Homo sapiens: one gene and its partners. The protein of the gene in region 3 purifies or fractionates together with the protein of the main gene of each other region. This does not show direct contact. Each region holds a gene or a part of one and is shown on either strand. Other genes may lie near its edges.

Region 1 (2,928 bases), on a different chromosome or scaffold from region 3:
CTGTACCCCAGCCTGGCTGACAGAGCAAGATGCCATCTCAAAAAAAAAATGAAAACCCGGGCACGGTGGCTCACGCCTGTAATCCTAGCACTTTGGGAGGCCGAGGCAGGCGGATCACAAGGTCAGGAGATCAAGACCATCCTGGCTAACACGGTGAAACCCCGTCTCTACTAAAAATACAAAGAATTGGCCAGGCCTGGTGGCACGCACCTGTAGTCCCAGCTACTAGGGAGGCTGAGGCTTGCAGGAGAACCCAGAAGGTTGAACCTGGGAGGCGCAGGTTACATTGAGCCGAGATCGCGCCACTGCACTCCAGCCTGGTAACAGCGCGAGACTGTCAAAAAACAACAAAAAAGCCAGGCGTGGTGGCTTAAGCCTGTAATCCCAGCACTTTGGGAGGCTGAGGCGGGCAGATCATGAGGCCACGAGATCGAGACCAGCCTGACCAACATGGTGAAACCCCATCTCTACTAAAAATACAAAAATTAGCTGGGCATGGTGCCACGCACCTGTAATCCCAGCTACTCAGGAAGCTGAGGCAAGAGAATTGCTTGAACCTGGGAGGCAGAGGTTGCAGTGAGCCGAGATCGTGCCACTGCACTCCAGCCTGGTGACAGAGCGAGACTCTGTCTCAAAAAAAAAAAAAAAAAAAAGACACCTCAAAAACCAAAAACTATCAAGTGTCCTATTCAGTGGCTCTTAGGACACTTGGAGTTGTGCAACCATCACCACTATAAAATTCCAGAACATTCCATCACCCCTAAGAGAAAACTTGTCTCACCACCCTACAACACACACAGCAACCCAGGCAACCACTGATGTGATCTCTGCATCTCCAGAAGCCAGAGCCTGGAAGCAGAAGCGGGGACAGGCGGCGCCTGGCTTCCAGACAGAAGGGCCATGTGGCCAGGAACTGAGCAGGACCCTTGGTCCCCCGGCCGCAAGCTGCTGAATTCCGCCAACGCCTGCGTGAGTTGCAAGCAGATGCCACCCCCGTTGAGCCTCCAGATGACAACACAGCCCTGGCTGACACCTGGGTTCCAGCCCGGTGAGACCCCGCAGAGAGGAGCCAGCCATGTCACATTCAGGCCCCGACCCACAGAACCGGGAGCTGGCGGGTGTTGTATTAAGCCCACAGATGCACGGAGTCTGCTATGCAGTGACAGAAAGCAAGCATGCCAAGTGTGGGGGACACGGGGCCCCCTCCCAGAACAGCACACAGCCTGGCACTGACACGGAACACCCACCTCCAGTGGTTTCTGTAAACACTCGCCCCCTAGTCGGCCAAGGGCTAGGAAAAGAGAGACCTCAGAAGACAAGCCACGAAACGTAAGCCCCGGAGCGCAGCCCCTCCCCTGGTGGGCCCGACTTCCCATCCCTTGACCACATTCCTGCAGCTGTGGTGGGCCCTGGCTGTCGGGTGGAGCAGGCAGCCACTGGGGTGTCCCTGCTTACTCAGTCACAGAGGAGGCCCTGGCTGGAGTGGGGCTGCGGGAAGAGCTGGGATCACTCCCGGGGCTCCTGCTAACATCCCTGACTGCCGGGCAGTGTGCCAAGGCGGCTCTCGGGTGAGAACCTCCCGGCCTGACATCACCAGCACTGTTACCATCCCTGCCGCTGGCACAGGTGAGGACATCCCTGCTGCTGGCACAGGTGAAGACATCCCAGCCACTGGCACAGGTGAGGACGGGAGGCAGTAAAGCCGTTACCATCCCTGCTGCTGGCACAGGTGAGGACAGGAGATAGTAGAGCCATTACCATCCCTGCTGCTGGCACAGGTGGACATGAGGCAGTAGGGCCACTCCACTGGAGAGGAAGGGCTGGTGGGGCCCCCAGCTCTCGGGATCCGCCCATTAGAAGGGAGCCTGCCCTAGGCGGGCAGACAGCACAGCAGAGAGGCAGGCGTGGGGACAGCCAGCCTGCAGGGACTGCTCACAGGGCCCTGGGGGACAGCGCCTCTGGCTCCCACATCTCTGGCATCCACCCCACCTGAACACCCCCAAACCACAGTCTCAGCTGGCCAGCCTTCCCCCACCTGCATCTGCCCCCACAGACTCGCACCGCAGGCCTGAGGTTGGATTACAGGCGTAAGCCACCATGCCCAGCCCACATTTTTTTTTTTTTCAGACAGAGTCTCACTCTGTTGCCCAGGCTGGAGTGCAGTGGCATGATCTCAGCTCACTGCAACCTCCACTTCCCAGGTTCAAGCGATTCTCCTGCCTCAGCCCCCCTAGTAGCTGGGAATACAGGCACATGCCACCACGCCCGGCTAATTTTTGTATTTTCAGTAGAGACGGGGTTCCACCATGTTGGCCAGGCTGGTCTTGGAACTCCTGACCTCAGGTGATCCACCTGCCTCAGCCTCCCAAAGTGCTGGGATTACAGGTGTGAGCCACCGTGCCCAGCCCACATTGCTTAAAAGTATAAATTAGTTGGGCACGGTGGTGTGCACATGTAGTCCCAGCTACTCAGGAGACCAAGGCGAGAGGATCACTTAAGCACAGGAGTTTGAGACCAACGTGGGCAAGATAGAGAGACCCTGTTCCTTTTTTCAAATAAATAAATAATAATAAAATCCTAAAAACCTTACTACCTGTGTGCTCACAGTTATTTCTAGCAGACAGTACTGCCTCAGATGGTGCTGGGGCTAAGCCGCAGATGATCTTAAAATGACTCCAGCCGGGTGATCCTGAACTGCCAGCCTGGACTACACATCCCCGCTGGTATGGACGGCTCCTCCCGCAGACAGGGATGTGTCTCTGGATCATTTCGCAGCCGCGCAGCTGTGGGTGCTACTCCTCGACATGCACTGCCTGGTCCACGCCTCAGCCGCCGGGGCGCCCCACAGATGGGGGACCAGCAGCCAGTGGAACTCCAGGCCAGTGGCCTTGGAGGTCACGCTGAAGCGGCCCCAGCGCTGCCCGAAGC
Region 2 (3,654 bases), on a different chromosome or scaffold from region 3:
ACAAAAATTAGCCAGTCTCATAACCCAATCTCAAAACAAAACAAAAATAAATATTATAGAAAGTATCTTCCCCATAACCACCCTAAAACACTCACATACCACTTATACACTATTGATTGATCTCCACCCTCTGCTAGAAAATTCAATGCAAGCTGTGATCTTACCAGCACTGGCAAAAATGAAAGCCTACCACTTCAAAGGGCCTTATTAAGGCCCAAGAGCAGTGAAAGCTCCTAGATAATAGGCATCATGTCATTAGGAAAATAATAAAATCAGAAACCTTGAAAACAACTTCTGCCTCTGCCCCTAATTAGCCAAGTGACCTCAGGAAGGCATTTAATTAAAACTGAGAATAACAATGCTTGCCTTACCTATCTCATAGTGTTATTTGGAGAATTACATAACATATGTAAATTGGCATAACACATTTGCAAGCTATTTTGTATGCTTTGTAAAGGATTTACTGATGTCACCAAAGCCATGAAGTTCATGCCTTTTAAATAATCCAATTCTCAAAAATTTATCCTACGGGAATAATTCAGTAGAAACAAAAATACATATGTGTAAAAATGTTCACTGCACTTTCCCTAATATTCCAAAAAACTGAGAATTAACCCAAATACCCAGCATTAGGAGAAAAAAAAAATACATCTTGAGAAAGATCATACAGCCATGTTGAAAATAAGGAAAAATGTTTATGATACAACGTTAAATGAAAATGGACTCTAAAATACTAAGTATCCTGCGCCTGCAACTATGTAAGAATTACATGTGGAAGATGACAGTGGAGTTAAGGTGATGGGGTTAAAAGAATTCTTTCTTATTATTACTATATCATTTGTCCTTAACGCTTATTTCTAAATTAAAAAATGCTTTTTAAATGAAATTATGAGACTGAAATCACTTTGTTTTGCTTCAAAACACCCCGTTTAGTCCCCTTACCTGAAGTCACCTGCTGTGAACTTGGCTTCAGCTAGTGAAAAGGCAGCTTCTCTCATCACTTCGCCCATCAACATTTTAGTCTGGAAAAGCATAAACCAACAGCAGATTCAACCAAGCCTTTTACAAGGAAATATTCCATCATAATTATGTTCCTTTAATAACCATCAGTATTTTATGCTGGCTGTGCATGTAAATATTGGTTTGATAACGACAAACAGAAATTTCCAATTTTTAACAGTTTTGGTTATGATCACTAACAATATTACAAACTATGAGTTTTATAATTAAAACAGAATAAATGCATTGAGAAACAGAAAACTGAATCTTTACTGAAGGACCTATATTATTCCTGAATGGGTACATGCTGATTTACTCAAACTAATCTCTTAAATTCACTGCAGTTGCAGTCAAAACCCTAATGGTGTATTAATTTTAAAGTACATCTGGAATATTTAATGTTTGAGAATATTCAATAATGTTTCAGAAAGAGAAGAAAAACTGGGTCAGCTGGGTAGGGAGTTGCCTTCCCAAGTATTAAAAAGGTACAGCTACAATAAGGAAATATTAATATATCTGGTTTGGGACAGTTAAGTCAATGAAATAGACTAGAGGATTCAGAAACAACCCCAGGTCTATATGGAAATTTAGTAAAGAGACCACTCTACTGTCTATACAGTACAAAATGATAAAGCTACCTACCTCACATCATACTGCCCCCAAAATTCAGACATAATTAAGATAAAGGTTTAAAGAAAAAAAACTGTAAAGCAACAAAAGAAAATGTGGCATAATATTTTCTTAATCATTTTAGGTCTTTTCTAAGCCTTATATGTAACTCAGAAGCTATATAAAGAAAAAGACCAACAGATTTGACCAAAGGAAAAACATTTTTAACTTTTTATTATTTTTATTTTTTGAGACAAGGTCTTACTTTGTTGCCTGGGCTAGAGTACAGTGGTGTAATCATAGCTCACTGCAGCTTCAAACTCATAGGCTCAGGCAATCCTCCTGCCTCAGGCTCCCAAGTAGCTGGGACTACAGGTGCATGCCACCACACTCTGCTAATTTTCTTCTTCTTCTTCTTCTTTTTTGTAGAGACAAGGTCTCACTGTGTTGCCCAGGCTGGTCTCAAATTCCTGGGCTCAAACCATCCTCCCACCTCGGCCTCCCAAAGTGTTGGGATTACAGGCATGAGTCACCACACCTAGTATTAACTTTTTTTTTTAAGTTAAAAGAAAAGGCGTGGAAAAAATATTTTTAACATTTTACACATTAGGCAGAATACACATAGAACCTCTACCAAAAAAAAAAAGAAGACATTTACCAAGAAAATCAAATTGTCAATAAGCATGAAAAGCTCCTTAACTTCACAAATAATCAAAAGTAGTACAGGGCCAGGCACAGTGGCTAACACCTGTAATCCCAGTGCTTTGGAAGGATGAGGTGGAATGATCACTTGAGCCCAGGTGGTTGAGACCACCCTGGGTAATAAAGCAAGACCCCATCTCCACAAAAAATAAAAAAATAAAAATAAAAACAGCACTCATAGAAAATGCTTTTGTTAAGTACGTACAGGTTTAAAAATAAAACACAAAAACTGTAAACTCAGCACTTTCGGAGGCCAAGATAGAAAGACTGTTTGAGCCCGGGAGTCAAAAAGACTAGCCTGGGCAACATAGTGAGACCTCGTCTCTACTAAAAATAAAAAAAATGAGCTGAGAATGGTAGCATGCACCTGTAGTCACAGCTACTCGAGAGGCTGAGGTGGGAGGATCACTGGAGCCCAGTTTGAGGCTGCAGAGTAAGACCTTGCCTCAAAAAAAAAAAAAAAAGAAAAAGACTAGAAATAAAATGTCATACCATGCGGTAGTACATGCTACAATAAAATTAAAATAAGGAATTGTGAGAGAAGCAAACATGGTGTTCACTTTAGATTGGGTGATCAGGAACAGCCTCTCTTAAGAGACTAGAACAGCTAAAGGAGCCAGTTATAAGTTCTGGGGAAAGAGTATTTCAGGCAGGAGAAAGAGCTAATGAAAAGTACCTGGAGGACCTTAGGAAGAATGCTCTAAATAAGGTAAGAGAGGCAGGCGGGGGGCCAATCAGATCAAGTGGAGCTTTGCAGGCAAGATTAAAGAGTTTGGATTTTATTAAATGAACTATTTGATATTTGACACTTGTTAAACTTATAATGGTATTTTTACTTTTGAAAGAAAAAAATTAATTAAAATAACAACAACAAAAAAAAAAATGCCAAGGGCCATGCTGGATTTTTCTAAAATAAATACTATTCTAAGAAAAGTTCATTCTACCTCTATTATCTTCTTTAGGATCTGTCGAAATCGAAGAGTTAAGGCATCAGATTTTTTCTTCAGGAGGTTTCGACCTGTCTGTGCTCCCTTTAAACGAGCCTTCATGATGGTCTGTGCCCTATATAAACATAAACAAAGTTAAGACATCTATTCTCATTGTTTAAAAGACAAAAAAAACCCTCCCCACCAGTGTTAAAATTATCCTTTATCCTTTGATGTGATGAAAGTGAGACTATATAGAGAATTTGTAGCTGACAGGTTTAACTGATGCTATGGTTTGAATATGTCCCTAATCTTCATGTGTTGGAAACAATCTCCAATGCAACAATGTTGGGAGGTGGGACCATCAAGAGATGACTGGGTCATCTGGGATCTGCCCTCCATGAATGGATTAACGTCA
Region 3 (3,654 bases):
AGGCCAGTGGCTGTTTTCATGAAGGCTCTTCCTGCGTAAGACTGTAGTGTTTCTAATTTGCCCCAAGCACAGGGCATATGTAATTTGGAGTTTCCCTGGATTGAGGACAGCTAGAAGCAATCTATATGCAAGATGAGGATGTGCGCACTTGAGACTTTCACTCAGAAATAAGATGATGGAAACTGGCTTTTCTCTATTGCCTGTTTTTCTCTCTCTTCCTAATAGGATGGCGATGTTATAGCCCCACTCATAACACCTCAAAAAAAGGAATGGAACGACAGTACTTCAGTCCAAAATCCAACTCGCCTCCGAGAAGCATCCAAAAGCAGAGTCCAGCTTTTTAAAGATGACCCAATGTGAATGTCTGTAGTCAGTTGTTTACAAACTCCCTCTCCTGCACAATTCATTTAGAGGCTTCAATCATAGAATTCTGCAAATTAATGACAACTCATGCTTTAATTTTGTATTTTGAATGTACACGCATGCTGAAGCTAAGTAACTTTTAATCAAAGAAATAAGATGGTATTAGGCAAATCTTACTATACTATGAAAAGCATTACCTTGCCTATTTTTAATATTATTAAAGCCTTTCTCCTTCAGTAGTCTATTTTCTTAGAATAACAACTCTTTTATCTATTCTGAACTCTATTTTTTTTCTTTTTTAAGAGACAAGGTTTTGCTCTGTTGCCCAGCTTGGACTCGAACTTTCCTGGGCTCAAGCGACCCTCCTGCCTCAGCCCCCCAAGTAGCTGGGACTAAAGTCATGTGCCACCACACCCAGCTTACTCTGAACTTTTATGACAGATGATTGTTTTTTGTTTTTAATGTAGAAATGAGACAAGGGTACAAATTGGAACTAGAAATTGACATTGTCATTGACAAACATGGCTAAAAACAAAACATCAAATCCTGCCCCCGTGAAGAGTTCCCTGTCACCTCAAGTTTGAGGATAGTCCTCTAAGAGTGACCTAAGCATAAGTGAAAGACACCTCCCCTCACCCTTCTAGCCCCCTACAAGGTGCCAGGTTGGGGTAAAGAGTTGGAGATGATGGCCAGGAGTGGCCTCCAACACGCTGGTGAGAGGCCTGATTAGGTTTTGGGGAAGATCTGAGAGCTCTGGCCTCTTCGTGAGTGGAACATAAAGCCGCCTCTTGTTGGGAGATCCTACCCCAGTGACAGAGGAATCCCCCAAACTAGGCTGTGCCCTGGCTCCGTGGCGGCTCCAGACCCGGGTAGTGCCTTTGTCCCCTGAATACTCACTCCCCCGGTCCAGAGGGCCTTCCCACTGCCCAGCCTGGAGAAGGCCTCCCCTGACCTGCTCTCTCAGTATCCTGGAGAGCTGGCCAGAGGCCATCACAGGCATCATCCTCAGAGCTCCTCAGACCTGGGACTTTGTTTTTGCTGGTTCAGTGCATTTTGTGTATTTAAGAGCAAACACTAGCCAGGCGTGGCGGCGTGTGCCTGTAGTCCCAGCTACTTGGGAGGCTGAGGCAGGAGGATTGCTCGAACCTGGGAGGCGGAGGTTGCAGTGAGCCTAGATCACGCCATTGCACTCCAGCCTGGGTGACAGAGTGAGACTCCATCTCCAAAAAAAAAAGCACAAACACTGCACTGCCTGTGCTGAAATTAGTGACCACCCAGTGGGCTCCAGGCTCCGCTAGGTAACTTCGTTTTCCCAGCAGTGGAGTGGGCACCACCTTGGTGGGGCAGTGCCCCTGTGCCCAGGGCACACCTCATTCCCAGTTCTATAGCAATTCACCAAGAACAAAGTCTGCAGTTAGAGCCAAAGCTGGTGGTGGCCAGAGGGTGCTGAAGATACAGGCCAGTGGGGATGGGAGCCATGAGCCCCGAATGTCTTCTGCTCTGATGCTCCCCGGACTAAGCCTCCCTGGCACACTGGGAGTGAGGGGCAGCCTGAGCAAGTAGGGGAACTCAGACCACAGGCCAGCAGATTTCCCAGCAGTCCATCACTGGCCACCGTGTAGCCAGATTCTGTTCCGTCCACACTGGGGTGAAGAGTACTTGGAATGTCTGCCATCCTGTATGATCACCCCACCCCCTGTCCATCCATCAGTAGATAATAAGGGTTGGTTACAATTCATAAGAGAATAGTTAAAACACTTCTCCTCTCATGCCTACCATGGTGCTGTATCAAGGGGATTTGTTCACATATGGGCTCAGCAACGCACAAGTGAGGTCAGCCATGGCACTAGGTCATTCCCATTTTAGCCAAGGTGCCTCTATAGGGGTCAGACATCATGTGCCCAGACCTAAGGTCAGGAATGTCATATTTTTCTGTTAAAATCATTTTATTTCTGTGTATCTTACCTTTAAATCATTGTGGTTTACTCTGAGATTCTGTAGTCCTAATATTGTATCATTGTGCTGTCTGCAAAACAACTTGAATCTATTTTGTTTGCATCTTTTGTTACATGTAACGCAGCTGTACTTTATGTTCTTTGCAACTGTTTCCATTATGAGAACGCTGTGCTATTTACAAGGTTACATTTTTCTTGGCCAGGCGAGGTGGTCATGCCTGTAATCCCAGCACTTTGGGAGGCCAAGGTGGGCGGATCACTTGAGGTAAAGAGTTGAGACCAGCCTGGCTAGCATGGCGAAACCCAGTCTCTACTAAAAATACAAAAATTAGCCGGGTGAAATTAGCCGGGCGTGGTGGTGTGTGCTTGTAATCCCAGCTACTCGGGAGGCTGAGGCAGGAGAATCGCTTGAATCCGGGAGGCAGAGGTTGCAGTGAGCCAAGATCAGGCCACTGCACTCCAGCCTCGGGGTCAAGAGCGAAACTCTGTCTCAAACAAAAAGAAAGAAAGGAAGGAAGGAAGGAGGGAAGGAAGGAAGGAAAGAGAGAAAGAAAAGAAAGAAAGAAAGAAAGAAAGAGAAAGAAATATCTTTGCTATTTGTATAAAAATGGAAATTTTAACAGCTTAGCCTCTAGAGAGTTACTGAACGTGGTTACCTTGGGAATGTAAATAGAACTGCAAATTAAAATGACTGGCCACTTCAACTGGGTAAGGGAAACAGCTGCAATAAAGCTTCGTGAATATATATCTCCATCTTGAAAGTTGTGTTCCACAAAGGTTTCGACCTCTTTGTCCAAAAATGCATATTACTCATTTACTCCTTTCATACCTTCATTGTGAAATTAAATAACAGACTCACAAGCACCTGGCACTGGTGGCAGACAAAAAGGCCTCAACATTCTGCAGCAGGCCAGAGGAGGAACGACGCTGCTACAGTATTTATTAGTTCCAGTGCTCAAGCCCAGGTTTCTAAGGTTTGACAATATTCTGTAAGTTAAAATCATTTCCACACATACAGAGTAGAATCCTGTTTTTGTAAGTATACACACACACACACACACACATTCATGGAACATTGTCTGGAAGGATATACATGAAAATGTTAAGAGTTGGGGGGGGTTGAATTTTAGGCAATTTTAATTTTTTTAACGTCTTCTGGTTTTTCTACAATAAACATGAATCAGTTGTAGAACCTCTAAAATGATAATGTTCATGAGGTTGGTTTTCCTCGTTCAGTAGCTGGCGAGGAACAGCATAGTGAAAAATCTTCCCTTTGCCAGGAGGCAGGCACTAGCGGGGAAGAGATGTGGATTTTTCTGAGTTTTCTAAGACCCTG

Evidence for each region.
Region 1: the proteins of TLDC2 (region 3) and ADAT3 purify together in Homo sapiens (affinity purification with mass spectrometry; one large-scale study listed by BioGRID and IntAct). This does not show direct contact.
Region 2: the proteins of TLDC2 (region 3) and ATP6V1D purify together in Homo sapiens (affinity purification with mass spectrometry; 2 studies listed by BioGRID and IntAct, with this or other methods). This does not show direct contact.

The regions. Positions count from the first base shown.
Region 1 is NC_000019.10:1,908,301-1,911,228, reverse strand, and holds part of ADAT3 (probable inactive tRNA-specific adenosine deaminase-like protein 3), read right to left. Parts: intron 1-2,928.
Region 2 is NC_000014.9:67,349,669-67,353,322, forward strand, and holds part of ATP6V1D (V-type proton ATPase subunit D), read right to left. Parts: intron 3,373-3,654; coding exon 3,255-3,372; intron 1,023-3,254; coding exon 943-1,022; intron 1-942. UniProt on the Homo sapiens protein: Subunit of the V1 complex of vacuolar(H+)-ATPase (V-ATPase), a multisubunit enzyme composed of a peripheral complex (V1) that hydrolyzes ATP and a membrane integral complex (V0) that translocates protons.
Region 3 is NC_000020.11:36,889,638-36,893,291, reverse strand, and holds part of TLDC2 (TLD domain-containing protein 2), read right to left. Parts: intron 3,520-3,654; exon of another isoform or gene 431-3,519; 3' UTR 361-430; coding exon of another isoform or gene 226-360; 3' UTR 1-225. Other genes in the region: deoxynucleoside triphosphate triphosphohydrolase SAMHD1, read left to right, coding at 226-360.